Homo sapiens: one gene and its partners. The protein of the gene in region 1 interacts with the protein of each later gene in a pairwise test. Each region holds a gene or a part of one and is shown in the gene's direction. Other genes may lie near its edges.

The links.
Region 2: the proteins of SH2B2 (region 1) and MAGEH1 interact in binary tests that used the Homo sapiens proteins (3 or more experiments, as listed by UniProt).
Region 3: the proteins of SH2B2 (region 1) and DUSP13B interact in binary tests that used the Homo sapiens proteins (3 or more experiments, as listed by UniProt).
Region 4: the proteins of SH2B2 (region 1) and ASB6 interact in binary tests that used the Homo sapiens proteins (3 or more experiments, as listed by UniProt).

Annotation. Positions count from the first base shown.
Region 1 is NC_000007.14:102,296,743-102,303,951, forward strand, and holds part of SH2B2 (SH2B adapter protein 2), read left to right. Parts: intron 1-3,779; coding exon of another isoform or gene 3,780-3,808; coding exon 3,809-4,537; intron 4,538-7,209. UniProt on the Homo sapiens protein: Adapter protein for several members of the tyrosine kinase receptor family. Involved in multiple signaling pathways. May be involved in coupling from immunoreceptor to Ras signaling. Acts as a negative regulator of cytokine signaling in collaboration with CBL.
Region 2 is NC_000023.11:55,447,049-55,454,120, forward strand, and holds MAGEH1 (melanoma-associated antigen H1), read left to right. Parts: upstream 1-5,078; 5' UTR 5,079-5,326; coding exon 5,327-5,986; 3' UTR 5,987-6,518; downstream 6,519-7,072.
Region 3 is NC_000010.11:75,096,420-75,103,717, reverse strand, and holds the start of DUSP13B (dual specificity protein phosphatase 13B), read left to right. Parts: upstream 1-4,205; 5' UTR 4,206-4,280; coding exon 4,281-4,687; intron 4,688-5,832; coding exon 5,833-6,006; intron 6,007-7,298. UniProt on the Homo sapiens protein: Dual specificity phosphatase that dephosphorylates MAPK8/JNK and MAPK14/p38, but not MAPK1/ERK2, in vitro. Exhibits intrinsic phosphatase activity towards both phospho-seryl/threonyl and -tyrosyl residues, with similar specific activities in vitro.
Region 4 is NC_000009.12:129,639,066-129,646,855, reverse strand, and holds the start of ASB6 (ankyrin repeat and SOCS box protein 6), read left to right. Parts: upstream 1-4,704; 5' UTR 4,705-4,856; coding exon 4,857-4,969; intron 4,970-6,133; coding exon 6,134-6,315; intron 6,316-7,347; coding exon 7,348-7,454; intron 7,455-7,545; coding exon 7,546-7,654; intron 7,655-7,790. UniProt on the Homo sapiens protein: Probable substrate-recognition component of a SCF-like ECS (Elongin-Cullin-SOCS-box protein) E3 ubiquitin-protein ligase complex which mediates the ubiquitination and subsequent proteasomal degradation of target proteins.

The DNA of each region.
Region 1 (7,209 bases):
AGAACGTGGGAATGTAAGTAGAAGCGTGCAGGCCATTGTGATGGAAAGAAGCAAGGTCTTCAATGTCCGTACAAAAACTTGGTCCCTTTAGCCAGGCATGGTAGCTCTTGCCTGTAGTCTGAGCTACTCGGAAGGCTGAGGCGGGAGGATCGCTTGAGCCCAGGAGTTGGAGGCTGCAGTAAACTGTGATCTCGCCACTGCACTCCACCCTGGGAGACACTGCAAGACTCTGTCTCAAAAAAAAACAAAAAACAAAAAAACGCTTGGTTCTTATCCACAGCTTTGCTTTCCAAGGCTTCAGATACCCGTGGTCAACAGAGGTCTGAAAATATTAAATAGAAAATCCCAGAAGTAAACATACAAATACAAATGTAAATTGCAGGCCAGTCTGAGTAGCAGGATGAAGTCTCAAACCATCCCGCTGTTCTGCCTGGGATGTGAATTATCCCTTTGTCTGGCATATCCGCACTCTGGATACGACCCGCTCGCCACTTAGGAGTTGTCTGGGTTATTAGATCCAAAAAAAATGTAGCGGGCCAGGTGCAAGTGGCTCGTGCCTGTAATTTCAGCACTTTGGGAGGCCAAGGCCAGAGGATTGCTTGAACCCAGGAGTTCAAGACCAGCCTCATCAATAGAGTGAGATCCCATCTCTACACACACACACACACACACACACACACACACACACGCAGTATACAGAGGTTCAGTATTAGCCAGTTTCAAGCATCTGCTGGGGTTCTTGGGACATATACCCCTTGAACGAGAGGGAACTACCATATTTGATCCACACTAGGAGGAGACCCCTCAAGTCCTGGAGTCACTGCAGACCTGGGCGAGAACCCTGGACCTGTCTTGTCACTAACAAGCTGTTTGTCCTTAGGCCCCAAGTGAGGGCTTAGGCGGTGACAGCTGTGACATGCCTGGTGTGCCAAACTCATTCATTTGTTCATTCAGTCAGTGTTTCCCAAGCGCCTGCTGTATGCCCAGCACTGAGGACACAGCCGCTTCTAGGACTGGCAAAATCCCTGCCTTGTGAAACTGGCATTCTCGGGGGAAGGGGGTGGAGGGGACACACAACCAAGCAACTAAATATATGATATGACAGCCGGCAATAAGGATAATGGTGAAAATAGGCAGAGTGCATGAACGCATCAGAGGGAGTATTGTCATCAGAGGGATTTGTCATTCTCAAGAGTGGTCAGGGAAGGCTATCCGCCAAGCCATTGGTTGAGCAGAAACCTGAAGAAGGTGAGGGAATGTGGAGGAAAGAGCATTCCAGGCATGTGCAAAGGTCCTGAGGTAGAAATTTGGCTGCTATGCTTCTGGGAGGGCAAGGAGGCAGGTCCAGCCAGGGAAGAGTGGCAGGAGGTATATCCAGAGGGGTAAACAGAGGCAGATTATGTCAGACCCTAGGGGCTGTGGATAGGGCTTTGGCTTTTACTCTGACTGTAATACGAACCACTGCAGGATTTTGTGCAGAGGAGGGATGTGATCTGTCTTGTATTTTGGTTTTGGGTTTTTGTTTTTGTTTTGTTTTGTTTTTGAGTCAGAGTCTCTATCACCAAGTGAAGTGCATTGTCACGATCATAGCTCACTGCAGCCTCCAAATCCTGGGCTCAAGCGATTCTGCCACTTCAGTCTCCTTAGTATCTAGGACTGTAGGCATGCCACCACATCCAGATTGGTTGTTGTTGTTGTTTTTGAGACAGAGTCTTGCTCTGTTGCCCAGGCTGAAGTACAGTGGTGCCATCACAGCTCACTGTAGCCTCAACCTCCCAGGCTAAGGTAATCCTCCTGAGTAGCTAGGACTATAGGCATGTCACCACATTCAGATCAACTTTTTTTGTTTATTTTTTGGGACAGGGTCTCGCTCTGTCCCCAGGCTGGAGTACAGTGGCCCCATCACAACTCACTGTAGCCTCAACCTTCCAGGCTCAGGTGATCGTCCTGAATAGCTGAGACTACAGGTGTGTGCCACCTTGCCCAGCTAATTTTATGTATTTTTTGTAAAGACAGGCTTTTGCCATGTTGCCTAGGCTAGTCTTGAGCTCCTGAGCTCAAGCAATCTGCTCACCTTGGCCTCCCAAAGTGCTGGAATTACAGGCCAATGTGTAAGCCAATGTGCCCGGCCAAGACAATTTTTTTGTTATTACTTTTTCTTTCTTTCTTCTCTTTTTTTTTTTTTTTTTTTTTTTTGAGATGGAGTCTCGCTCTGTCGCCAAGGCTGGAGTGCAGTGGCGCGATGTCGGCTCACTGCAAGCTCCGCCTCCGAGGTTCACGCCATTCTCCTGCTTCAGCCTGTGCCTGCCCCCACGCCCGGCTAATTTTCTGTATTTTTAGTAGAGATGGGGTTTCACTGTGTTAGCCAGGATGGTCTCGATCTCCTGACTTCGTGATGCGCCCGCCTCGGCCTCCCAAAGTGCTGGGATTACAGGCATGAGCCACCGCGCCTGGCTTTTTTTTTTTTTTTTTTTGAGGTGGAGTCTGGCTCTGTCACCTAGGCTGGAGTGCAGTAGTGGGATCTCGGCTCACTGCAACCTCCGCCTCCTGGGTTCAAGCGATTCTCCTGCCTCAGCCTCTCAGTCAGCTGGGACTACAGGCATATGCCACCATGCCCAGCTAATTTTTGTATTTTTAGTAGAGACGGGGTTTCATCATGTTGGCTAGGATGGTCTCAATCTCTTGACCTCCTGATCCACCCGCCTCGGCCTCCCAAAGTGCTGAGATTACAGGCATGCGCCACCGCACATGGCAGTCTTGAGTTTTGGAAATGACTGGGCTCCTGGGAGGAGAACAGACTTTAGAGGAAGTAAGATCAGGATCCCGGGGACCATAAAGCAGCTGCTGGAGTGCTGCATGCAGGAAAAATAGTTATGCGAATCCCAGGACGGCAGCCTGGACCTGGAGGAAGGAGCTGAGTCCTCGGTATATTTCAAAGGTCCAGCCAGCAGGATTCCATGTGATTTCTTCCTTTCTACCGGGCTTTGGGGAACATCAGAAGAGGTCACTGAGGAAGTGAGGTCACCAGAGGCTCATGGGGACCCCACTTGAAAGCATCCATCATCCCAGCCTCTTCTGCCAGCCCCAGGAATGACCCTGAGGTCCCTGAGACTACTATTTGGGGAGAGAATGAATGCAGGACTGCCCCTTCTGCAGACACCACCTCCTGCCTCCCCAGTTGTCTTTCTCTTATTTTTTGCAGTCTCCCTCTGTCGCCCAGGCGGGAGTGCAGTGGCGCAATCTCGGCTCACTGCAACTTCTGCCTCCTGGGTTCAAGTGATTTTCCTGCCTTAGCCTCCGGAGTGGCTAGGACTACAGGCGTGTGCCACCACTCCTGGCTAATTTTTGTATTTTTACTGCAACCTCTGCCTCTTGGGCTCAAGCAGTTCTCCTGCCTCAGCCTTTCGATGGCTAGGGTTACAGCGTGCACCACCACACCCGGCTAACCGGCTAATTTTTGTATTTTTAGTAGAAACGGGGTTTCACCATGTTGACCAGGCTGATCTCGAACTCCCAACCTCAGGTGATCCACCCACCTCGGCCTCCCAAAGTGCTGGGATTACAGGCGTGGGCCACCGCGCCCGGCCCCAGTTGTCTTTCTCTTTACACACATCCATGCTGCTTGGAATGGCTGCCTGCTGTAGTCCCACAACACACACGTGTGCATGTACACACACACCCACACAGCCCCAGAGAGTCCTAGGGGAGCTGGAAGGAGGGGACAGGTGGGCGCATTGATCACAGGCCTGAAAGTCACTGCGCGCTCTTCTCGCCCGAAGCCGCAGGTGGCTGCGATGGGACGGAAGCCATGAATGGTGCCGGCCCTGGCCCCGCCGCAGCCGCCCCGGTCCCAGTCCCGGTCCCGGTCCCGGACTGGCGGCAGTTCTGCGAGCTGCATGCGCAGGCGGCCGCCGTGGACTTTGCGCACAAGTTCTGCCGTTTCCTGCGGGACAACCCAGCTTACGACACGCCCGACGCCGGCGCCTCCTTCTCCCGCCACTTCGCCGCCAACTTCCTGGACGTCTTCGGCGAGGAGGTGCGCCGCGTGCTGGTGGCTGGGCCGACGACTCGGGGCGCGGCCGTGAGCGCAGAGGCCATGGAGCCGGAGCTCGCGGACACCTCTGCACTCAAGGCGGCGCCCTACGGCCACTCGCGGAGCTCGGAGGACGTGTCCACGCACGCGGCCACCAAGGCCCGCGTTCGCAAGGGCTTCTCGCTGCGCAACATGAGCCTGTGCGTGGTGGACGGCGTGCGCGACATGTGGCACCGGCGCGCCTCGCCCGAGCCCGACGCGGCAGCTGCCCCGCGCACCGCCGAGCCCCGCGACAAGTGGACGCGGCGCCTGAGGCTGTCGCGGACGCTGGCTGCCAAGGTGGAGCTGGTGGACATTCAACGCGAGGGGGCGCTGCGCTTCATGGTGGCCGACGACGCGGCCGCGGGCTCCGGGGGCTCGGCTCAGTGGCAGAAGTGCCGCCTGCTCCTGCGCAGGGCTGTGGCCGAGGAACGCTTCCGCCTGGAGTTCTTCGTGCCGCCCAAAGTGAGTTACCCCATAATCCCACCTAGCCTGGGGGGACCAGAGGAGGCACCTGGGCAGCAGCTGAGGGTGCCAGGGACTGCCTTTGGGGACCGCGTGGTCTAATCTGGTTGACAGGGTGAAGTATTTGGTGCCAGGACCCTGGGAGGTGGGCCTGTCATGCCTCTTGAACAAGTCACCCCTTCAACCCCGGTTCTTCCTTTGCGAGGAAGGGTCCTCTGGCTACACCAAAGGGTTCTGGGGCACTAATTTTTTCTTTTCGTGTGTGTGTGTGTGTGTGTCCGTGTGTGTGTGTGTGTGTGTGTGCGCGCGCGTGTGTGTGTGTCCCTCTGTCACCCAGGCTGGAGTGCAGTGGTACGATCTCGGCTCACTGCAACCTGTGCCTCCCAGGCTCAAGGGATTCTCCTGCCTCAGCCTCCCAGGTAGCTGGGATTTACAGGCACCCACCACGATGCCCGGCTAATTTTTGTATTTTAAGGAGAGACAGGGTTTTGCCATGTTGGCCAGGCTGGTCCTGAACTCCTTACCTCAAGTGATCTGCTTGCCTCAGCCTCCCAGTGTTGGGATTACAGTCGTGAGCCACCATGTCCAGCCTTTCTTTCCTTTTTGTTTTGAGACAGGGGCCGTCACTCAGGCTGGAATGCAGTGGTACAATCATGGCTCACTGCAGCCTTCACCTCCCAGGCTCAAGCAGTCCTTTCTTAGCATCCCAAGTAGCTGGGACCACACACACCGCCACTCCCAGCTAATGTTTTTTATTTTTCGTAAAGACGGGATCTGACTATGTTGCTCAAGTGGTCTGGAACTCCTGAGCTCAAGAGATCCTCCCCCACCTTGGCCTCCCAAAGTGCTGGGATTACAAGCATGAGCCACTGTGCCCAGCCCAGGGCACCGTTCTTGATGTTGTTCAAGAGCCTGGCTACCTGCCCTCCTCTCCTGCAGCCCAAGGGTGCCTGGCACCTCCCAGAGCCGAGGCCTGCAGGGATGAGGGCAGGAGTGACCGAGCACATTCGCAGAGGGCTCCCTGGGAGGTCTGTGTCTGACTCCATGGGGCTCTGCTCTTCCCCAGCTCAGCTGCCAGACTCCAGCCCAGCCCCTGCCCAGGGGGTCCTTTTCTGGCCAGGGGGATGCCAGGCTTCTTTCTGGCTGTCACCAACATTGTTGCTCACTGGCATGCACTGACCCTTCCCCTCTTAGGGGCTGGCCATCAGGTCCCTGGCAGTAGTGTCACGTCTTCTCCAAGGTGGCCCCCCTGCTTTGGAAAGTGGGAATAGCTGTAACAATAGTGCCCACCCTCTGAGAGCCCACAGTGTGTCCAGACCCCAGCCTGGTGGGCATCTGCACAGACACACTGTCATCCTCTGGGTACCCCACCCCAGCGAGGTGAGCACATGGTCCCCAGATTACAGAAGAGAGCGCAGACAGATGCTCAGAGAGGGAAGTGTGGCCTGCCCAACGTCACCCAGCTGGCGGGTGCCAGAGCTGGTCTAACATGGCAGGACATGGTGGCGCGCACCTGTAGTCCAAGCTACTTGGGAGGCTGAGGCAGGAGAATCGCTTGAACCCAAGAGGCAGAGGTTGCAGTGAGCCAAGACTGCACCACTGCCCTCTAAGCTAGGCGACAGAGTGAGACCCTATCTCAAAAAACCAAACCAAAACAAAACAAAAAACTGGGGGCCGAGCGCGGTGGCTCATGCCTGTAATCCCAGCACTTTGGGAGGCCGAGGCAGGTGGATCACCTGAGGTCAGGGGTTCGTGACCAGCCTGACCAACATGGAGAAACCCCGTCTCTAATAAAAATACAGGATTACATGCCTGTAATCACAGCTACTTGGGAGGCTGAGGCAGGAGAATCACTTCAACCCAGGAGGCAGAGATTGTGGTAAGCCGAGATCACGCCATTGCACTCCAGCCTGGGCAGCAAGAGCGAAACTCTGTCTCAAAAAAAAAAAAAAATCCGATCTAATGATACCTGCCACCCTGGTGGTCCCAAGAACGAAAGGAACATGGAAGTGGAGGTCCTTGGGCACTGAGAGGTTTAGGCAGGGGGAGGTTTTGCTGGTGCAGCAGCCGACAGCACCCCCAGGGACCACCGGGGACCCCACACCCACCTCCCGCATCAGGGCCCACTCTGTCCCTGGGTGCTCTCTGAGTCACCCGCCGCTTCTTGGCTCTCTCTCCATCTCTCAGTCTGCTGGGGTGCAGGGGTGTGGGCTCCCCAAGGCTCATTGCCCATGAGCCACATGGGCCCTGGAAAAGTGACTTCCCAGGGACACAGCTACTCTCTGAAGAGCTTTTTCCCCAGGTCCCAGCACCCCTACACTTCCCTAGGGCTTTTTTCCTGCCCAGGCCCCTGCCTTTAATTCCCTGGGAGAAATCCTAGACCCCTAAGCCCGACTCCACTCCTTGTCAGAAAGGGAAACCGAGGCCCAGTGACGGGTGGGGTGGGGCTTACCCGGGGTCACCCAGAGGGCAGGGACAGAAGCCCAGGGCTCCAGTGCCTTGGGCCTGAGTGACAGTCACAGCTGCCCTTCTGTAAATAGCAGTGTCTGCTGCCCTCGGAGAAGGGGAAGGAGCAGCTGGTGCCCGCCCCCGCCCCACTCCACCGCTTAGTCCCAGCAGAGCCCACTAATTTTGCTGCTGGCAGAGGGCAGCGTTCCTGCAGGGTCACTGGG
Region 2 (7,072 bases), on another chromosome or scaffold:
GCTTAGCCACCATGATCAAGTTGGCTTCATCCCTGGGATGCAAGGCTGGTTCAACATACACAAATCAATAAACATAATCCATCACATAAACAGAACCAATGACAAAAAAACACATGATTATCTCAATAGATGCAGAAAAGGCCTTCGACAAAATTCAACAGCCCTTCATGCTAAAAACTCTCAATAAACTAGGTATCAATGGAACATGTCCCAAAATAATAAAGGCTATTTATGACAAACCCATAGCCAATATCATACTGAATGGGCAAAAACTGGAAGCATCCCCTCTGAAAACCGGCACAAGACAAGGATGCCCCCTCTCACCACTCCTACTCAACATAGTATTGGAAGTTCTGGCCAGGGCAATCAGGCAAGAGAAAGAAATAAAGAGTATTCCCTTAGGAAAAGAGGAAGTCAAATTGTCCCTGTTTGCAGATGACATGATTGTATATTTAGAAAACCCCATTGTCTCGGCCCAAAATCTCCTTAAGCTGATAAACAACTTCAGCATAGTCTCAGGTTACAAAATCAATTTGCAACAATCACAAGCATTTCTATACACCAACAACAGACAAACAGAGAGCCAAATTATGAGTGAACTCCCATTCACAATTGCTACAAAGAGAATAAAATACCTAGAAATCCAACTTACAAGGGAAGTGAAGGACCTCTTCAAGGAGAACTGTAAACCACTGCTCAATGAAATAAAAGAGGATACAAACAAATGGAAGAACATTCCATGCTCATGGGTAGGAAGAATCAATATCGTGAAAATGGCCATACTGCCCAAGGTAATTTATAGATTCAGTGCCATCCCCATCAAGCTACCAATGACTTTCTTCACAGAATTGGAAAAAACTACTTTAAAGTTCATATGGAACCAAAAAAGACCCCACATTGCCAAGACAATCCTAAGCAAAAAGAACAAAGCTGGAGGCATCATGCTACCTGACTTTATAGTACAAGGCTACAGTAACCAAAACAGCATGGTACTGGTACCAAAACAGAGATACAGTCCAGTGGAACAGAACAGAGCCCTCAGAAATAATACCACAAATCTACAACCATCTGATCTTTGACAAACCTGACAAAAACAAGTAATGGGGAAAGCATTCCCTATTTAATATATGGTGCTGGGAAAACTGGCTAGCCATATGTAGAAAGCTGAAACTGGATCCCTTCATTACACCTTATACAAAAATTAATTCAAGATGGGTGAAAGACTTAAATGTTAGACCTGAAACCATAAAAATCCTAGAAGAAAACCTAGGCATTACCATTCAGGACATAGGCATGGGCAAGGACTTCATGACTAAAACATCAAAAGCAATGGCAACAAAAGCCAAAATAGACAAATGGATCTAATTAAACTAAAGATCTTATGCACAGCAAAACAAACTACCATCAGAGTGAACAGGCAACCTACAGAATGGGAGAAAATTTTTACTATCTACCCATCTGACAAAGGGCTAATATCAAGAATCTACAAAGAACTTAAACAAATTTTCAACAAAACAAACAACCCCATCAAAAAGTGGGCAAGGGATATGAACAGACACTTCTCAAAAGAAGACATTTATGCAGCCAACAGACACATGAAAAAATGCTCATCATCACTGGTTATCAGAGAAATGCAAATCAAAACCACAATGAGATACCATCTCACACCAGTTAGAATGGCAATCATTAAAAAGTCAGGAAACAACAGATGCTGGAGAGGATGTGGAGAAATAAGAAAGCTTTTACACTGCTGGTGGGAGTGTAAATTAGTTCAACCATTGTGGAAGACAGTGTGGCAATTCCTCAAGGATCTAGAACTAGAAATACCATTTGACCCAGTGATCCCATTACTGGGTGTATACCCAAAGGATTATAAATCATTCTACTATAAAGACACATGCACACATATGTTTATTGTGGCACTGTTCACAATAGCAAGGACTTGGAACCAACCCAACTGTCTATCAATGATAGACTGGGTTAAGAAAATGTGACACATATACACCATGGAATACTATACAGCCATAAAAAAGGATGATTTCATGTCGTTTGTAGGGACATGGATGAAGCTAGAAACCAACATTCTGAGCAAACTATCACAAGGACAGAAAACCAAACACTGTATGTTCTCCCTCATAGGTGGGAATTGAACAATGAGAACACTTGGACACAGGGAGGGGAACATCACACCCTGGGGCCTGTCGTGGGGTGGAGGGTAGGGGGAGGGATAGCATTAGGAGAAATACCCAATGTAAATGACGAGTTAATGGGTGCAGCAAATCAACATGGCACATGTATACCTATGTAACAAAGTTGCACGTTGTGCACATGTACCCTAGAACTTAAAGTATAATAATAATAGAAAAAGAAAATTAAATAAGTTGGAAATACAGTACGCCCAGCCAACAGGCAGACACTTGAAGAGATTATGGTAAATCCATTGCAAGGAATAACATTCAGCCACTAGAATGAAAGAATTAGAGGTATAAATTGAGGAGATTTCATTATTAATTAGGAAAAAGGTTTGCCTGGAAATTCAATATGGAATGGTTTGATTTTTATAAATGAAACAAAGTGGAAAGCCATGTGTTCTATCTAAACATATACATGCCAACACATCAGCAACCCTACTCGTTGATGTTGATCCTAGAGAAATGCATGCACATGTTCATAGGGAACATGCGCACAAATATTAATAAGAGTATTATTTTGTTTTGGAAAAATGGGAACTGCATAGGCGTGGATCATTAGGAACAGGATAAATTGAAAATGATGAAATGTACAAAATTAAAATAAATGAACTAGAGTTCCATGTATTTACATGGGTAAACATAAAAAATATAAAGTTGAGCTGGAAAACCAAAGTGTTGATCAATGTATACATTATGAAGACGTGCTTTAAATAAAGGAAGAGATTCTATATTGTGTACAGACACAGAAGTAGGTAGCAAATATATACAAGTCTCCATGGGCATAATTGCTGACTTCATTATAGAGGAGCACAGTGGGGAAGGAGAGAGCAGAGTGGGTCAGGGAAGACGTAATAGGAGGGTTTTGCCATATCCAATATATAAAAGATAAACAGTAAGTAGGGCCTAATATTTAAATTTTATACAGCTAGCTATTGGTGTTTATAATATTAATCTCTCTTCTTTGCCCTACGTTTGAGATTAAGTCGCAGTAAAAAAAAATTCATGCTAAAAACAAGCAAATAAACTGCAAAAGTAATCCTCCCATTTTTGTTTCATGAGGGTAGGATTGTACATGCTATAGACTTCCATGCAAGACCCAAATTCCTGGAAACAGTAAAATAAGTTCATACCTGTACTGAAAAACAATTCAGAGCAATTATCAATGGACCAGAAACTGCGAGAATTCTCAGAATGTGGGACAGCAGATGGAGCCAGACTACTGTTTTGAGTAGGTCATGTCCCAGAACGCGTGCAAAGGTTATCCCAAACGGAGGGCTGGCTCAAGAGTGCTCTGTGTCCTGGAGAGGTGCTTTCTTTGCTTGACCAAATTGATTTATTGCTAACTTACCCAACAGGAGGTCTCGGTGGGCTCTAATTATAAAGAAAATTTCAGCAAGACAGGCATAAAGTATTCATTTGTTTCTTAAGAGTTCAGTTAAGAACACCTATAAAATCTTTTCCATCATGAATTCCTTCAGCACGCATTTATTAAATGCCACACTCACACACCGCTTGGAAAACCTTGAGAGGCAAAATCTGTGCTTACCATGTAATAAATGCTTTTCATTTTTTATCTCATTTAATTCTCACAACCCTATGAGGGCTGTACTTTAGCCCCACTTTATAGATGGGAAAACAGGCTTAGAGAGAAGTGACTTGCTTAAACTAATACCTTGAATGACATAAGAAAGATATAGAGTGCTAGTTATAGGGCTTTCCTCAATGGAGTAAAAATGGACTCATTACCCTTTTGGGCAGATCAAGACAAGCTTCAGGGAGAAACAGGTCTGTGAGCAGTCAAATGGAATTTAGATAGTTGGAGAAGGCTGAGAAGACAGGTCAGGCAGAGCAAACAGTGAGCAAAAGCAAGCAGTGGATAAAGTTCAGAGTATGCTCTGAAAGAAGCAAAATAAATCAGGAGTCCAGGAAGACTGGAGCCTAGAAACCTTGGAGCCAATCTGAACTCCATCATCCCCTCCACATTCCCCACTTCATCCATTCTGTCTGCAAAGCCCTTCAACGGTCACCTTTAAAATGTCTTTCTGCCTCTCCATCCCCATGGCAACAGCCTTAAGGCATACTTTAGTTCCCAGTGCTTCTTATTCCAATTGCTTCCTATGTGGTCTGCCAGGAAACAGTTTGCTTTTCTGAGAGGCTGCACAAATGCAATTCCTCTGATCCTGTCACTGCCCTGCTTTCATACATACATACATACATATATGTGTGGTAGATATATGCACTGTATATAAACATAATGTGGTAGATATATGCACGATATAGGTATGTATGTATGTATGTATAAAAGCAGGGCAGTATATATATCGTGCATATATCTACCACATTTTAAAGGCTCTGCACCTCTTTCACCCTGCTTGTTTCTGCAGTCCCATCTCCTCACATCATCCAGCACATCTGCCATAACAATATTATCCGGGTCCTACATGGGACCACAAATTGATTAGTATACACACAAATGCCTTCTGAAAACAGGGCGAGTGAATGAACGCGCTGTGTAAGCCAAGACAGGAAAGGAAGGCTGGAGACAGCTGACTCCTTCCAAGAATACACCCTCCCGCCACCCCTGGCCTCCCAACCCCCAACACACACACAGCCCGTCGTCAGTGGGAATGGAGCCGACGCACTCCTTCCCTAGACCGTCGAGCCAATCTTGGAATGTTTGTAGTAGGCTGAAAATACAGAAACTTTAAGCTATTTTTTTCTCTTCTGCAAACTCCAGGCCCCTCCAATCTCTAGCTGTCATTTCTGCCCTTGTCCCACCCCTGTCGCTGCCTGCCCCTTTTCCTATCTGCTAGCGGAAGTCCCTGTGGAGGACCAGCCTACTTCCTCTTTGGTGCTAGGAGTGTGCGTGGCAGGAGAGGCGGGGCCAATTTTGCTGAGCTTTCTCGCGGGCTTGCAGCTGCGGCAAGTGCTGGCGGCGGCTGCTCGCGCAAGTCAGCTGGCGTGGGAACTACCCTTTGTAGCTGAGAACGGCTTGTTTATTGCTACAAAGACTCTATTGACATTGGTAGCTTCAGCGGCAGCAGCTTCTTACGGTATAAAGCTGTTGCTTCCTGAAGAGGCTACAAGCATCCTTCCCTAGGACTGCTGTAAGCTTTGAGCCTCTAGCAGGAGACATGCCTCGGGGACGAAAGAGTCGGCGCCGCCGTAATGCGAGAGCCGCAGAAGAGAACCGCAACAATCGCAAAATCCAGGCCTCAGAGGCCTCCGAGACCCCTATGGCCGCCTCTGTGGTAGCGAGCACCCCCGAAGACGACCTGAGCGGCCCCGAGGAAGACCCGAGCACTCCAGAGGAGGCCTCTACCACCCCTGAAGAAGCCTCGAGCACTGCCCAAGCACAAAAGCCTTCAGTGCCCCGGAGCAATTTTCAGGGCACCAAGAAAAGTCTCCTGATGTCTATATTAGCGCTCATCTTCATCATGGGCAACAGCGCCAAGGAAGCTCTGGTCTGGAAAGTGCTGGGGAAGTTAGGAATGCAGCCTGGACGTCAGCACAGCATCTTTGGAGATCCGAAGAAGATCGTCACAGAAGAGTTTGTGCGCAGAGGGTACCTGATTTATAAACCGGTGCCCCGTAGCAGTCCGGTGGAGTATGAGTTCTTCTGGGGGCCCCGAGCACACGTGGAATCGAGCAAACTGAAAGTCATGCATTTTGTGGCAAGGGTTCGTAACCGATGCTCTAAAGACTGGCCTTGTAATTATGACTGGGATTCGGACGATGATGCAGAGGTTGAGGCTATCCTCAATTCAGGTGCTAGGGGTTATTCCGCCCCTTAAGTAGATCTGAGGCAGACCCTTGGGGGTGTAAAAGAGAGTCACAGGTACCCCAAGGAGTAGATGCCAGGGTCCTAAGTTGAAAATGATGTCGATTGGGGGCGGGGGACACTGTATTTGATATTTGTGATCAGTGATCATTGTTCAACTGCGAAATAGAGTGTTTGCTTTTGATAATGGAAAATTGTATTCGTTTTAAAATTCCGTTTGTTGAGAATAACAATATGTTTAAAAATATAATTGAACAAATTTTTTTCTTTGTTTCCTGTCATTGACATTTAGTATAACAGTTTTGCTAACGTTCTAAAATGAAGTCGTTCCATCATAATCTATGATCTTGTACAGCACTTATAGAAATAAGCTGTTCTTTTGAAGTTGAAATACCCAGTAAAATGTTGAAGAAGGATGGAGGATTTCTTCATATCTGACGTTTCTGAAACCCTTTGTGTCTGCTGTTGTGTGAAGATTGACATTTACCATGATTTTCCTTAGTTACTGCAGAACATAGAGAAAAATAAAAGCCTAACGAATAGTACATCTTGCGCATTTTCTGACCACCTGTTATGTGAGGCACCAGTCTAGATTCTAGGGATACTCCCTAGTACACATCCTCCAGGTCCAAAGAATGTTCTAGATTATGTGGGAAAGAAAAATAGGTAAACTGGCAGTGCAGTAAATGCTGGGATAGAGAACGAGCCTGAAGTGCCATGAAAATGTAAAAAACCTTATGTGACCTGTCTTGGGGAGTGGGCCGGGGAAGGGAGCACCATAGGATGTGTGAAAATTCAAGAGACACTTAAATAAGTTTGGGGGGGACTGAAATATACGATCAGAATATATGATGAAAATATTATGTATTAGATATTTGATTGGATACTCCACCCAGCATAGGGGAGGGAGCACTGGCAAAAAGAAGAGGACATCACAGGGTGCCTGCCACGGAAGTAGAAAATACACAAAAATCATCTTGAGAGGAGGAGGGCAGAGAGAAGGGGTGGTTGCAGGGGAAAAGGTTGTCATGGGGTACTTCAGAAATAAAAAAAGATGAGACCGTCAGAAAATCTTGGTGAGGGGACAATCTGAGGTTTG
Region 3 (7,298 bases), on another chromosome or scaffold:
CTGAGCCTTAGCTCCCTGGAGCTCAGACCTCAGAGACCCAGTGCAGGTATGGCTGCAGGCATGGGTGTGCCCTGTTCCCACCATCTGGGAGTGCAAGCGGGGAGTAGTATCAAGGTATGTGTGTATGACAAAGGTCTGTGGATGACAGAGAAGATTTCTAGTAGGCCCAATTGAAGGTCCTAGCTGACCACAGTTAGCATGGGGAGAGACCTTAAAGACCATCTCTCTGGCCTCAGGGGACAGTGGGGCCTGGGTGTCCCTGCCTTTTGGGTTGGGGGAGGAGCTTGGCAGAGGGTGGGAGTGGCCCTGGACACACTGCTTCTGCCTGCAGCCCAGGGCTGTCTGAAGACCTGCTCTACACCTGTGTCTGTGTGTGGGCCTGTGCTGCTTCCCTCAGCCTGAGTCTTCTAGGTCTTTATCCTGGACCTGTCCCATCGGCCTTGGCCCCTAACTGAGGGCCCCGGACCTGGGTCCTGCTGTTGGCAATGCCACCAGTTTACATGTGATTTTTGGCTAGCCTCTTCACTGTCCTCCTCCACAGAACATCCTTCCAACTTGAACTTCCTGCCCTTCTTCTATAATACCCTTGAAGGCCAAGGGAGAGGGTCTCACTCCAGTTGCTTAGGCTGGAGTGCAATGGCATGGTCAAGGATTAGGGCTCACTGCAGCCTTGACTTCCTGGGCTCAGGTGATTCTCCCACCTCAGCTTCCCGAGTAGGAGGGACTATAAGTGTGTGCCACCACAACCAGCTAATGTTTTTTTTGGAGACGGAGTTTCGTTCTTGTTGCCAAGGCTGGAGTGCAATGGCGTGATCTCAGCTCACTACAACCCCCACCTCCCGGGTTCAAATGATTCTCCTGCCTCAGGCTCCCGAGTAGCTGGGATTACAGGCATGCGCCACCACGCCCAGCTAATTTTGTATTTTTAGTAGAGGCAGGTTTTCTCCATGTTAGTCAGGCTGGTCTCGAACTCCCGACCTCAGGTGATCCGCCCACCTCGGCCTCCCAAAGTGCTAGGATTACAGGCATGAGCCACCGCGACCAGCCCAACTCACTAATTTTTTGTATTTTTAGTAGAGACAGGGTCTGGCTATATTGCCTAGACTGGTCTTGAACCCCTGGGCTCAAGCAATCCTCCCACCTCAGCCTCCCAAAGTGTCGGGATTATAGGCATTAGCCACTGCATCCGGCCAAGGGACCTTTTAAAATGGTTTATTTGATCTTCCTTCTCCCACTATCTCTTTTTTTCTTTTTGTTTTTTCTTTTTTTCTTTTTGAGACGGAGTCTCGCCCTGTCGCCCAGGCTGGAGTGCAGTGGCGCGATCTCGGCTCACTGCAAGCTCTGCCTCCCGGGTTCACGCCATTCTCCTGCCTCAGCCTCCTGAGTAGCTGGGACTACAGGCATCCACCACCACGCCCGGCTAGCCTGTTAGCCAGGATGGTCTCGATCTCCTGACCTCATGACCCACCCTCCTCGGTTTCCCAAAGTGCTGGGATTATAGGCTTCAGCCACCGCGCCCGGCCCCTTCTCCCACTATCAACATACATGTACACAATATGCCACAGTCAGACCTGGGCTGAGCTGCCTTGATTCTTAGCAGTGCTGGGACAGAGGCCTGGGCCTGGAGGGAAAGGTGCCTGACTGTGCTTGGCACTGGCCATGCCATGGAACCAGTGGACAAGTTGGGAGTGGCAGGGGAGGCTGGAAGAGGGGAGTAGACAGCATGCTTTATAATTAAACTCAAATCAAAAAATAGAAACAGCATCAAGTGTGCGGAGACAGGCGGCTGAAAGCCAGCAGCACGAACTGCCCGTCAGAGAAGTGCACAGCCTGGGCCAGATACTCCCACAGGTGGGTGAGTGCTCCTAATTTGGGGGGGGTAGGATGTGGTCCCTGAGCATGCTGGGTAATGAGGGCCAGGACACTTGTGCCTGTGTGGGGAGGGGTGGGGTTTGGGTTGGGTAGAGAACCGACTGGGTCAGAGATGAAGGCGCAGACAAGGTATAGTAGAGTCAGAGAGACCTGGGTTTGAATCCTGACTCCCACATCAATTGGCTATGTGACTCTGGGTATGTTGCTTAACCTCTCTGAGTCTCGGTTTCCTCATCTGTAAAATGGGGATGATAATATTACCTGCTCCATAAAGGCACTGTGAGGATTCAATGAGAAAATGTGAGCACCTAGCTCTGTCTGGCACATAGTACATCCTTGATGAGTGCTAAATATAACAATTATTGCTGGACAGAGAAAGAAATATCAAGAAATACAGAGATAGAGAAGAAATCTCACTGTCCCGTAGGGAAGTTACCCTCCACATAGGATATGGCTGGGGCTGGAAAGGGTAAGAGTAATTATAGTAGTGATAATAATAGTAAGACGTGCCATTTATTGGGCATCTACCATAAGACAGACCCTGTGGGAGGTGCTTTACATTAATTATTACATGGAATTCTCACAGCAGCCCCACTGAAGAAACTGGCTTGGTGAAGACAAGACCACATAGCTGCAAGTACCAGACCTGAGATTTCTACCCAGGTCTGCCCTCCCCAAGACCCTCAGGCTGAGCACAGAGACCCACAGCTGTTCCCCACTGGCAGCCACACGCCACCCTTCTGCAGGCCTTCTCCCCACACTCCTCACTGGTCCTGCCCTGAGATCTCCAGCCCCACATGGCCTGTGGCCACACTTCTGTCTGGCCTCCCTGGAGTGGAGTCAGAAAGGATGGGCAGGAAGAAAGTCCAGGGGACTATCTGAAACTGCAGCTGAGAGGTGGATGGCAAACAGCTGCCCCCTGCCCCAAGGAAGCCTGTGCCTCTGCCCGATGTCTTGGGCACACAGAGCAGCGTCATGGGAGGCTGCAAAGGCACATGAGCTTCCTGGGGGAGGATGGGAGACAGAGGCAAACGGGGGAGTGACCCAGGGAGGAGAGATGCAAACACAGAAAAGAAGTGCATGGACTTGCAAACAGCAGCAGCACAGGAGCAGCCAGGAAAAGCCCTGCCTACAGAGGCAGCTGCTCTGCTGAGCGGGGGAGGCAGGAAGGGGGCGAGGAGGAGCACGGGATCAGGGAGAGAAGGAAGACTGCAGGGAGTGGGAGGGGAGCTCGGCCGGGCCCTGGCCCTGCTGGACGTTGGGCCTGTGCTTCACCCAGCTGGGGACAAGGAGACATGGAATGTAGTGTCAGGCAGGGCCCTCCGAAGACCAAGTCTCAGGTGTCAGAAACCGGCGGAGCTGCCACAACCACCGACTTCCCCTCCTTGGGAGGGACTGGGGCTTAAAGGACGAGTCCCTGGGGGGGTGGCCGGGCCTGACTCTGACTGATGGGATGGGCTGGGTCCCAGTGGGTTAGAGTGGACAGGTGGGGCAACACCCTGAGCATCGGGAGCAAGGCATTAGGTGGAGCCTGACCAGGCATAGCGCTAAGTCCAGGGGAGAGCCCCGTTCTTCAGACCTGGGCCTAGGTCCCCTCGGAGGCAGAGGCATGCACTGTGGCCTACCAGCCCCCAAATCCTTGACCCCTCTGGAGCCTCCTGGGGGTGGAGCCTGGCTGCCTGCTCCCTGGCAAGGCTGGGCTGTGACACACCCATTGGCCACCAGGGGGCAGCCTCACCCCATGCCAAGCTCCGCAGGCCTGAGCCCGGAGCCTGTCCCACTTCCCAAAGCCCCATCTCCTGCCTGGGGTGGTGCAGCCCCACCTGATGGCTCCAGACCAGTGTGGCTGTTGGACTCCTCTGGGTCCTGGGGGCTTCCCCAACTCCACCACACTACACTGCCCTCTGCCCTGCAGTGACCGCATATCCAGACACTCCTCTCTCATTCTCGGGTCAGACCCCCAGAGCATCCTGAAAATTAAGTCCAGCATCCCTAGCATGGGAAGATAAACTGTGGTCCAGATGGGAGCAAAGACTTGCTCGTGGCCACAGAATGAGTTATGGCAGAGTGCTGGGGGAGCCAGGCTCTCCTCCCTGCCTCAGAAGTTCTCTTCCCACCTCTTCAGGTAGACTCCCATCTTCATGGAGGTTTATGGAACCAACGGTCTTCAATCCCAAACAGATACCAAGCAGAGAGGAGGCCTGGGGGTTTAGAGGGACCGGAGGGCCCACTGCAGTCCACAAGGCCTCAGTCGGCTCTCAGGCCCCACCCCCCATGGGCGCCCCAGCCAGCACCTGGAATTCTAGCCGCTTCACAGTGTTTGTGTTCTGGGCAGAACCTGCCCAGCCCTGTTCCGCTCAGGCAGAGTCCTGCCCCTGCACCCACTCCCCCATTCCCGGCCCCAGGCCATGCCCCAGGTAGGTGGCAGGCCACTCAGCCACCTGGAGAGGTCACAGTGGGGGATGAGGAGGACAGCTTGGTCTTCACTTCCGCCTTGCCCGACAGCCTCCCACTGGGTGAGCCTGGCCAAGCCGGCAGCCTCCTGGGTGCCTGTTTCTTTTTCTGGTCCTGGCACTGCCTACCAAAGGGAAAAGATGTTCTTCCCAGTATGCACCTTCCCTAGTCACTGGTCCAGGGGATCAGGGGCAGTTAGCAAAGACAGGACCCCCTCTCCAACACGGCACCAGGCCCATATTCTGGTGCCGCTGAAAATCCAGCTCCGCAGGGTCCCTGACTCCTTCAGCCAGCAGATGCCTGAAACAAGCTACCTGACCCGGGTGGGGCCTGACATCCAGTGCTGGCCTGAGTCGTGGGGGTAAGGAGGAAAACCCAGGGCCTGTAGGCAGGTGTGTGGCTCAGCAGTACCAGGCTCCCTTGAGGAAGCAGATGGGTTAGTGACCACTCTCTGGAGGCCCCAAAGATGGTAACTGAAAGGCTTGGGGATGGACTAAAACCCCAGCCTTGCTACTCATGAGCCGTATGGCTTTGGGCATCACTTTTAAAACATTCTGAGCTTCAGCTTCCTCCTGGGTAAAATAGGAACAGATATCCCACGAGTGAGACATCAGGCTTTTTGTTGTTGTTGAGATGGACTCTCGCTCTGTTGCCCAGGCTGGAGTGCAGTGGTGTGACCTCAGCTCACTGCAACCTCTGCCTCACAGGTTCAAAAGGTTCTCCTGCCTCAGCCTCCCTAGTAGCTGGGACTACAGGAGTGGACCACCACACCTGGCTAATTTTTGTATTTTTGGTAGAGACAGGATTTTGCCTCATTGGCCAGGCTGGTCTCGAACTCCTGACCTCAGTTGATCTGCCTGCCTCAGCCTCCCAAAGTGCTGGGATTACAAGTGTGAGCCACCGTGCCCAGCCAGAGGCATCAGGCTTATAAGAGGCATTAGCTCATTCCATGCGGAGTTGCTAACAAATACCAGTTCACAGTCCTGGCCTCTTACCTGGAGATAGGCTCTGATCTCCAAGCCCCTGAAAGTGGGAGGGGACGGGGGTCTGAGGATGAGTACTGGAAGTAGCAGGTGAGGGGGCTTGAGATGAGCTGCTTAGGTTGGTGGGGGCTTCCTGGGTGCCCTGAGAGCCACAGCCATCTGGGGCTTTCATCCCTACAAAGTCCAAGCTGATTTAGGGATGAGATCTGCACTGACTAGTGCCACAAACAGGGAACTCCAAGGGCCCCTTGGCCAAAGCTTCATACATCTGCAGCTCAGCAGAGGGCAGGAGAGAGGTCTGCCCAGCTCCATAGCAGTGACAAAGGCTTGATTCCCTTGTTCCCTGGGGAAGGGTTCTAGGCCTCAGCCCCAGCTGAGCTTGTTAATACCTCATGTGAAATAGATGAAGCCCTTCCTGCAGCATCCCCGTGGCACCTAGGCACTGCACCATGGGCTTCCCCATCAGCTGGATCCACCCTCTGGGAGCCTGCCTCCAGCCACTGCGGTGTCCACTCTGTTCCAGGATGGACTCACTGCAGAAGCAGGACCTCCGGAGGCCCAAGATCCATGGGGCAGTCCAGGCATCTCCCTACCAGCCGCCCACATTGGCTTCGCTGCAGCGCTTGCTGTGGGTCCGTCAGGCTGCCACACTGAACCATATCGATGAGGTCTGGCCCAGCCTCTTCCTGGGAGATGCGTGAGTAAGACCCACGTTAGGAGTGGGGATGGCGGAAGGGTGTGAGGTTCACACGGGAATGGGGGCATGAGCCTCTCTCAGAGCCCTCTAGGGCAGAGGTGGCACGCTTGCCTCCCACCGTCTCTTTCCCTATGTTTCTTTCCTTTTATATTATTACTGCTTTTAACTGTGGAACTAGAATGCACATAAGAAAAGTGCACAGGGCCGGGTGCGGTGGCTCACGCCTGTAATCCCAGCACTTTGGGAGGCCAAGACAGGTGGATCACTTGAGGTCAGAAGTTCGAGACCAGCCTGGCCAACATGGTGAAACCTCATCTCTACTAAAAATACAAAAAATTAGCCAGGTGTGGTGGTGGACGCCTGCAATCACAGCTACTCAGGAGGCTGAGGCAGGAGAATCACTTGAATCCAGGAGGCAGAGGTTGCAGTGAGCCGAGATCGTGCCACTGCACTCCAGCCTGGACAATAAGAGCGAAACTCTGTCTCAAAGAAAGAAAAAAAAAAGGAAAAAGGAAATGTGCACAGAGCACGTATGAACAGCTTCATCACCCAGTGAAGAAAAAGGATATTACTTGTCTCCCAGAAGCCCCTACTGAATCCTTCTCATTATAACTTTTCTATTCTCTGTGGTTAATCACTATCTGTTGAATTAATTATTTTCTGTAAAGTTTTACCACCTATATATCTAAACAGTGTAGTTAGTTTCACCTGTTGTTTAAAATGATATGAGTGGAATCATGTTGTGTGTGTTTTGTGCCTGGGATCATTTGCTCAAATTTGTGAGTCACCCACATTGTTATGTGTACCTGAAGTTCATTCATGTTTTCACTGCTGGAGTCATCATATGATTATGCCACAGTTTATCCATTTTACTGAATATGGACATTTGAATTGTTTCCACTTTTTGACTATTATGAACAGTGATCCTAGTAATATTTCATTTTAAAATTTTTATTTATTTATTTAGAGACAAGGTCTCTCTCTGTTGCCTAGGCTGGAATGCAGGGATTATCATCATTCACTGCAACCTCAAATTCCTAGGCTCAGCAATTCTCCCACCTCAGCCTCTCAAGTAGCTGGGAATACAGGTTTGCACAACCACACCTAGCTAATTTTTCTTTTTTTTTTTTTTTTTGAGGCGGGGTCTCACTGTGCCACCCAGGCTGGAGTATAGTAGTGCAATCTCCACTCACTGCAGCCTCAACCTCCCAGGCTCAGGTGATTCTCCCACCTCAGCCTCCCAAGTAGCTGGGACTACTGGCATATGCCACCATGCCTGGCTAATTTTTGCA
Region 4 (7,790 bases), on another chromosome or scaffold:
TGATTTTTAGCAGCTCTTTATATATTAAGGTCATCCCCCTCTGTACATTGACGAGTCGGAGTGACTCCCAAACTCCCCGAGGACTAGGAGGCAGGGACAGGGCTGAGCTCTGGGTCCTTGTCCCCAGGACCCCCATCCTGCTGAAGATCTCTGGAGGTGGGTGGCAGGAAGGGGCTGGGCTGGCCAGGCGGTGAGTGGCAGTGACAAGGAAAAGAGAGAGAAGCGGAGAGCTGGAACCAGGGGCTCTGAGTGACAGAGCCCTAATGGGAGGCAGATGGAGGAAACAAGTCTGCCCTTGCTGACAGGAGGGAGGTCAGGGGGCACAAAGCCCTCTAAAGTTAGGAGCCTGGGCGGCGGGCAGGCAGCAGGGCCAGCCCCACAGGGTGGTGCCCCAGGGCTGTGAGAGGGCGGGGGTTAGCTCCCCCTCCTGCATGTCCAGACTCGTGAGCCCAGAGCTGGAGGAGCTGAGGACACTCGAGTCTCGGAGGCAGGAAGCGTGGAAAAGTTGCACCGACCGGGGCTGGAGGCCCAACCTCACAGTGCAGCCTGGGACAAGCGCCCAAACCTCTCTGAGCCCGTTTCTTTGTAAAATGGGGTAATAATATCACCTACTTAACAGGATTTAGGGAGATCAGTGCACCAAACATTCAGCATATCTAGTGCCTGGCATGTACAAGGGTCTCCGTAAATACAAGTGGGCTCGTGTTGTTGTTATTATAATGGCCCCCTCCTCACTCCTTCTCTGTCGGCGGAGCCCACCAGCCACGTCAAGGAGTTCGTCATTGGCTCCAAGACTGTCAGAGCTGGGAGGGCCCTCAGGTTATAGGTGAGGAAACTGAGGCCCAGAGACCAGAAGGGCCATGCCTAGGGTCACTCGTGACAGTGGGTTTATGTGTGCTCCCCAAAAAGATATGTTCCAGTCCTAGTCCTGGTGCCTGGAACGTGACCTCGTTCAGAAAAAGGGGTTTTGCAGATGTAATCAAATTAAGATGTGGCCATAATGGATTTGGGTGCGCCCTATAAATCCAGTGACCCATGCCCATTTAGAAAGGAGGGGGAAGGCTGGGCACGGTGGCTCACGCCTATAATCCCAGCACTTTGGGAGACAGAGGCGGGCGGATGACAAGGTCAAGAGATCGAGACCATCCTGGCCAACATGGTGAAACCCTGTCTCTACTAAAAATACAAAAAAAAATTAGCTGAGGGTGGTGGCACACGCGCACCACTGCACTCCAGCCTGGCGACAGTGCGAGACTCTGTCTCAAAACACAAAACAAAAAAGAAAAAGAAAAAGAAGGGAGCGGGGGATTTGGACAGTGGCATAGACAGCAGGAAGAAGGCTGTGTGGAGACAGAGGAAGGTGGACACTGGGGTGCTGCTGTCCCAAGCCGAGGTACCCCTGTGGTCACCAGGAGTGGGAGAGGCAAGAAAGGGACCTTCTCTGGAGTCTTTGGAGGGAGCGTGGCCCTGCCCACACCTTGAATTTGACCTTTCCGCCTCCAGAACTGTAAAGGAGTGAATTTCTGTTGTTTTAAGCCATCAGGTCTGCAGCACCTTGTTATAGCAGCCCTAGGGCAAAAGCAGGGCTCAGACGAAGTCAGCCCACCCAGCTCCACCGGGACCCCACGGGACTGCACCTCCCGCAGTTACTCACCATGCGCCCTTGGGTAAGTCAGGCCTCCGTCTCCTGAGGGTTGAGGGCCAAAGGCCATCACATAGGTGAGGAGACCGAGGCCTGACTCAACACGGGCATGGTGTCACGTGATCAAATGTGTTGTGTGATCAAACGAGAGAGGGGCTGTGAAGACCTGGGTCGCCTGAGAGCGGCTGTACCGTTCAGGGCCTCGCGATCCATTGAGGGGGACCCTTCAAGCAGGGGCAGACACTTCCAAACGCTCAGAGTCATGCCCAGGCAGGTGCACCCAGGGCAAGCACCCCATCTGGATGCAAATCGCTGTCTGGTAAGAATCTGGGCCCTTCTGATTTTTACAAGGCAAGTTGGAAAATCTCCATTTCCCTGGGAGCAAAATGTCCCGATTTCCCTCAGGAAGATACTTCTTTCCCTCAGCAAGAATCAAGGCAGACATGTGTGGGGAGCCGTGGGCCCTCGTAGTCTGCAGTTGCTTCTGGGACGCCCAAGCTAGTGTTGCCTTAAAGGGTCTTGAACCCAGCTGCCCACCCCCACCCCTCCTTCCTACTCCTTTAGGTAATGGAAGAGGAAGCAAACTGAGGCACTCTGAATGCCTGGCGTCGGAGGTGGTTTTCCGAGAGCCTGTCATTGGATCTGACAACAGCTTTAACAACCAGAGCCAGCAGTTACCAGCCGCTGCTGCCACACCCTCAACCTTGCCGGTTGAGGCTCGTTGCTTTGGGTTTTCTTGTACAGTTTGTTTTGCACATGGTAGAGGGCCTTACTCTGCCCATTTAAAAATGTTTCATCTGGCTGGGCGTGGTGGGCTCACGTCTGTAAGCCCAGTACTTTGGGAGGCTGAGGCGGGTGGATCACCTGAGGTCAGGAGTTCGAGAATAGCCTGGCCAACATGGTGAAACCCCGTCTCTACTAAAAATACAAAAATTAGCCTGGCGTGGTAGCGCATGCCTGTAATTCCAGCTACCTGGTAGGCTTGAACCCAGGGGTTGGAGGTTGCAGTGAGCCGAGATCCTGCCACTGCACTCCAGCTTAGGCAACAGAGTGAGACTCCGTCTGAAAAATAATAATAATAATAATAATAAATAAATAAATATAAAAATGTTTACTCTAAGACCCATCGGATTGTCTTGAAATGCGCCTTTAAATGTTTTTTTCCTGGGCTGGGCAACTCTCGCTGTCTGGCAGGTTCCAGGGAGAGGGGCCCAACTTGGCAGAGCAAGGCCCAGGAGGCCAACGCTGTGATGTGGACTGCTGGGGCGGGAAACCCCTCTTCATCATCAGCTTCCCAGAAGCAAGAAGGCATCAAGGCCCCCCCACGCAGACTCCAGGTGGGAGAGGAGGCTCAAATGCATGGCCCAAGGGGAGGTGCCTCGACTCCAGAAAAGTGGTTTTTCCAAGGCAAGCTGGAAATGTCCATTTCCATGTGAGCAGAATTTCCCGATTTCACCCAGGGAGAAATTTCTTTCCTACAGCGAGAACCAAGGCAGAAACGTGCTGGCAGCTGTGGACTCTGCGGCCTGGAGCTGCTTCTAGGAAGCCCAAGCTGGTGTTGCCCTAAAGGGGCTTAAACCCGGCTGCCCACTCCGCCCCTTCTTCCTGAACCAGAGGGTTTTGGCTCCTTCCCACTGAATTCCACTTCCACCAACAATTACAGTGCGCTGGCTCCAGCATCTCAGGTGAGTGTGATTATACTTTTTTTTTTTCTTTTTGAGACAGAGTTTCGTTCTTATTGCCCAGGCTGGAGTGTGATGGTGCGATCTCCACTCACTGCAACCTCCGCCTCCCGGGTTCAAGCAATTCTCCTGCCTCAGCCTCCCAAGTAGCTGGGATTACAGGCGCCTGCCACCACGCCCGGGTAATTTTTGTATTTTTAGTAGAGACAGGGTTTCATCATATTGGCCAGGCCGGTCTGCAGCTTCGAACTTCTGACCTCAGGTGATCCACCTGCCTCGGCCTCTCAAAGTGCTGGGGATTCTACCCATTTTACAGATGAGGAAATCCAAGTTCAGAGACAGGCGGTAGCACACTCCTGTGTTCCCAGCTTCTCGGGAGGCTGAGGCGGGAGGATCACCTGAGCCCAGGGGTTCAAAGCTGCAGTGAGTCATGATCACTACACTACACTCCAGCCTGGGAGACAGAGTGAGACCCTGTCTCTAAAAAATACACAAGATTCGGGCTGGGCACCGTGGCTCATGCCTGTAATCCCAGCACTTTGGGAGGCCGAGGTGGGAGGATCACGAGGTCAGGAGTTCGAGACCAGCCTGGCCAATATGGTGAAACCCTGTCTCTACTAAAAATACAAGAATAAGCTGGGCGTGGTGGCCAGCGCCTGTAATCCCAGCTACTCGGGAGGCTGAGGCAGGAGAATCGCTTGAACCCGGGAGGCGGAGGTTGCAGTGAGCCGAGATCGTGCCATTGCACTCCAGCCTGGGCAACAGAGCGAGACTACGTCCCCCAAAAAAACAAAAACAACAACAACAAAAAACAAGATTCACTGAGTCCATCAAGGCAGAGGTGGAGAGGGCTAGCAGCCGTCCTGGCCAGGTGCTCCCCGGGACAGAGAATAAGAAACTGAGGAGGGGACGTGCGAGTACCCTGGTCCTCATCATTCCAGTCAGCGGGCCGGGTGGTGACAGAGGTGGCCCAGCCCCTCTTCAGGGAAGGCGAGGGCCAGCCCGAACCGGAAGGGGCAGTGTCTGATGACCACAGCTCTCAGGGGCGCCCAGGGCCAGTGGGGCAGCGGCAGGGCCGAGAGCACGACCGGCGGAACTCGGACGGCGCCCAGCGGTCGCGGGCGGGATCGCAGGGCGAAGCCGAGCCGGGCCGGGCCCTGGCAGGAAGGGGCGGACCCGCCTGAGTCTCGGATCTGGCTTGGCTCGATCCTCCACTCTCCCACTCCGCTGGGGCCGCCCACTGGACATCGCCCGAGTCGGCCTGGCGGTCGTGCCCCAGGACGCGCCGAGGTCCTCCGAGCCCGCAGGGGGCGCTGTCGCCATATGGCCCACCCTGAGTCGGCGCGGGCAGGAAGTACGAGGGTCACTTCCGGCGGGGGCGCGGCTTGGACTGAGGAGCGGACCCGGCCGGGCGCAGGGGCTGGACTGGCGGAGCAGGTGGGGTCCGCGGCCGCCGGAGCGTTCCGGTCGGCGTCTGGGCATCTCGGCCTCGGCAGAAAGCGCGACGGCCCTGCTGCGCGGGGCCCGCGGCGATGCCGTTCCTGCACGGCTTCCGGAGGATCATCTTCGAGTACCAGCCGCTGGTGGATGCGATTCTGGGCTCCCTGGGGATCCAGGACCCCGAGCGGCAGGAGTCTCTGGACCGGTAACTCACCCCCTCCCGTGAGCTGGCCGAGGCCGCTCCGACCCCGCAGCGTCCCACTTTATCACCACAAGCCGGGCGGGGTGGATGCGTCCCCCTTGACAGAGGAAGGGACGGGCGGAAGCCGGGGTTGCGTGGCTCGGAGTGCGCGCTGCCCCGCGCGGATCCCACTCCTGCCCCTTGCATGGCGGAGACGAAGGGCGGGGAGGGCCCGAGGGCGGAGGCCCGCGGGTTGTCGCAGGGCCTGCGCCTCAGCCCCACCCTGTCGCCTGCCTGTCCTGTGCCACCCCCCGGCGTGGCAGAGGAGCAGGGTGGAATCCGTGAGGCCTCAGATGTTACCCCAGAGCAGTGTGAAGGTGGGCTTTTGTAGCAGAGTTTGCGTTTTTATAGACAAGAGCTGGTCTGTCGTGGACCTGCAGGAAAGGGGTCGGGAGCGAATCTGCATTCACTGCCCATGGTACTAGGCACCTGGGGTCCATCAGTGGCTCAGCAAAACCCCCGCCTTCTTGGCGCATGTGCTCCAGAGGAGAGACTGACAAGTAATTGTACGGCGGCACGCGAGGTGGAAGGGAGGGGAGAGCAGAAGGAAGGGGCTCGGCTCAGGTGTTGAGGGGGTTGTCAGTTGGTATTTCCAACACGTGGTAATGATGAGTCTCGCCATCCAGGGACTCTGGTGGAAACGTAGGCTTTCTTCATCAATATCAGCTGAAGGTCTCAATGTGAGGGGAGGGAGGAGGCTGTGTTGCTGTCCTGGCTGCAGGTGTTGCCGGGGCTGGGGTCCTGCGGGTTTGAGGATGGAAGGGCTTTCTGAGGAAGAAGCATCAAAGTCGGGCTTGGGCTCTTGGCCTCCAGGCTGGTGGTCCCTTCAGTCCCAGCAGCCCAGGTGTGTGAGGCTTTGTACCTAAGTCTGCGACCGGACTCTGGGCAACGCGGGAGGAGAGCGCAGACAGACCCAGCCCATTCTCCGCAAATCCCAGTCTGCTCCCGTATTAAGAGATGCAGCGTGGCCCTCTCTCTACTTCAGAGCTTCCCCCAAGCCCCTGTGACCCACAGAGCCAGGGCCCTGCTTGCTGATGATGATAGCAGGACTAAAGCCCACCAACCCACAGGCTGCGCGGTCACCCGGTCCCACAGCTGTGCCTACCCTCAGCCTCTCTCCTGTCCCAGGCCCAGTTATGTCGCCAGCGAGGAGAGCCGAATCCTTGTTCTCACTGAGCTGCTGGAGAGGAAAGCCCACTCTCCCTTTTACCAGGAAGGCGTGAGCAACGCCCTGCTCAAGATGGCTGAGCTGGGGCTGACGCGGGCGGCCGACGTTCTCTTGCGGCATGGGGCCAATCTCAACTTTGAAGGTCAGCGAGAGCCCCGGGGGTGGGCAGGTGGCTTAAACGCGGCCCGACGCTGGGTGGGCGCCCATGTCCCCAGCCTTGGCTTCTACCATCCTCTGAGGAGTGACTTCCCCCCCTTTATTTCCTGGGTGGCTGCAACTAAGGAAACTCCCATTGGGTGGCCTCCCACCCCCTGCGGGTTTTCACATGGCTCTTCCCACCTCTGTTCCAAGAGCGAGTGTTGCTGCTTCTACCATGTGATTGATTAGCAAACTTTCCCCAGCTCCCAGATTAATCCCCACTTCCATTAATGCAAAAATGCGGCTGCTGGCACTGTGCCCAGAGCTAAGGGAAGGTAATTTTCTGCTACTTACTCTGAGCCAATTTGTTTTTTTTTTTCTCATGCCGTAGGGAGAGGGGAAAACAGGCTGCATTAGGCATAAATCACCACAGGACACCCTGGCTCCTGGCTCCTGAGTGCCAGGGATGGAGATGGAGCCGAGCTCCTTTCTCTGTGTTTTTCAGCCCAGGGAGGGCAGGGTTAGTCGGCAGACAGGCAGGGCTGCCTTGTGACCTAATAGGGGCCTGAGACAGCCAGGCACGTCTCCTTTCCCCATCCGAAGACGGGCTTGGAGTCTGCTGGGCTCCTGGAGGGTCAAGGAGCTGAGACGGGAGGGCCGGTTCTGAAGCCAGTGACTTGGAGACCAGCTTGGAGAACCTGGCTGTTACCACCAGGCCTACAAAGCAGAGCCGCCAGAGCTGCTGTGTAGCGCGGCCTCCCAGCCATTCTGAGAGGGTGCGCCCCGTTTTATGGTCCCTTCTTACAGAAGAGGAAACTAAAGCCCCCAACAGCTTCAGTAGCGTGCCCACTAGAACACCCCGAGGGCCCTCTAGTATCTGGTGAGGACAGCTCTGTCCTAACCCTTGATGGTGACAGGAGGCTGGGCCTGTGCTTCTGGACACTTTAGGTGGGAGTTTGGGGCTGGGCTCTGGGTCCGGGGGCCCCATAAGAATGCGGACAGATAGGACCCACATGAGCTGTGTCTGCACCTTCAGACCCAGTCACCTACTACACGGCCTTGCACATCGCCGTCCTGCGGAACCAGCCGGACATGGTGGAGCTGCTGGTGCATCACGGGGCCGACGTTAATCGGAGGGACCGGGTAAGTGCCAGGTCCAGCTTGCTTTGAAGCAGGGTTGGGCAGGGGCCTGAGCAGCTTCCCAAGCCAACCTGGCTGTGCTTCCTTGGCTCAGATCCACGAGAGTAGCCCCTTGGACCTGGCCAGCGAGGAGCCTGAGCGCCTGCCCTGCCTGCAGCGCCTCCTGGACCTTGGAGCTGATGTCAATGCCGCTGACAAGCATGGTGGGTGCCTCCTGCAGGAAAGCAGGACAGCTGGGCCCCCAGGCACCTTGTGGGGGACACCCAGGGTGCCCCAGGACAACAGCTAGGTGGGCAGACTGGATGCTGGCCCTGGCTGGTGGCACAGCATGGCTGGGCA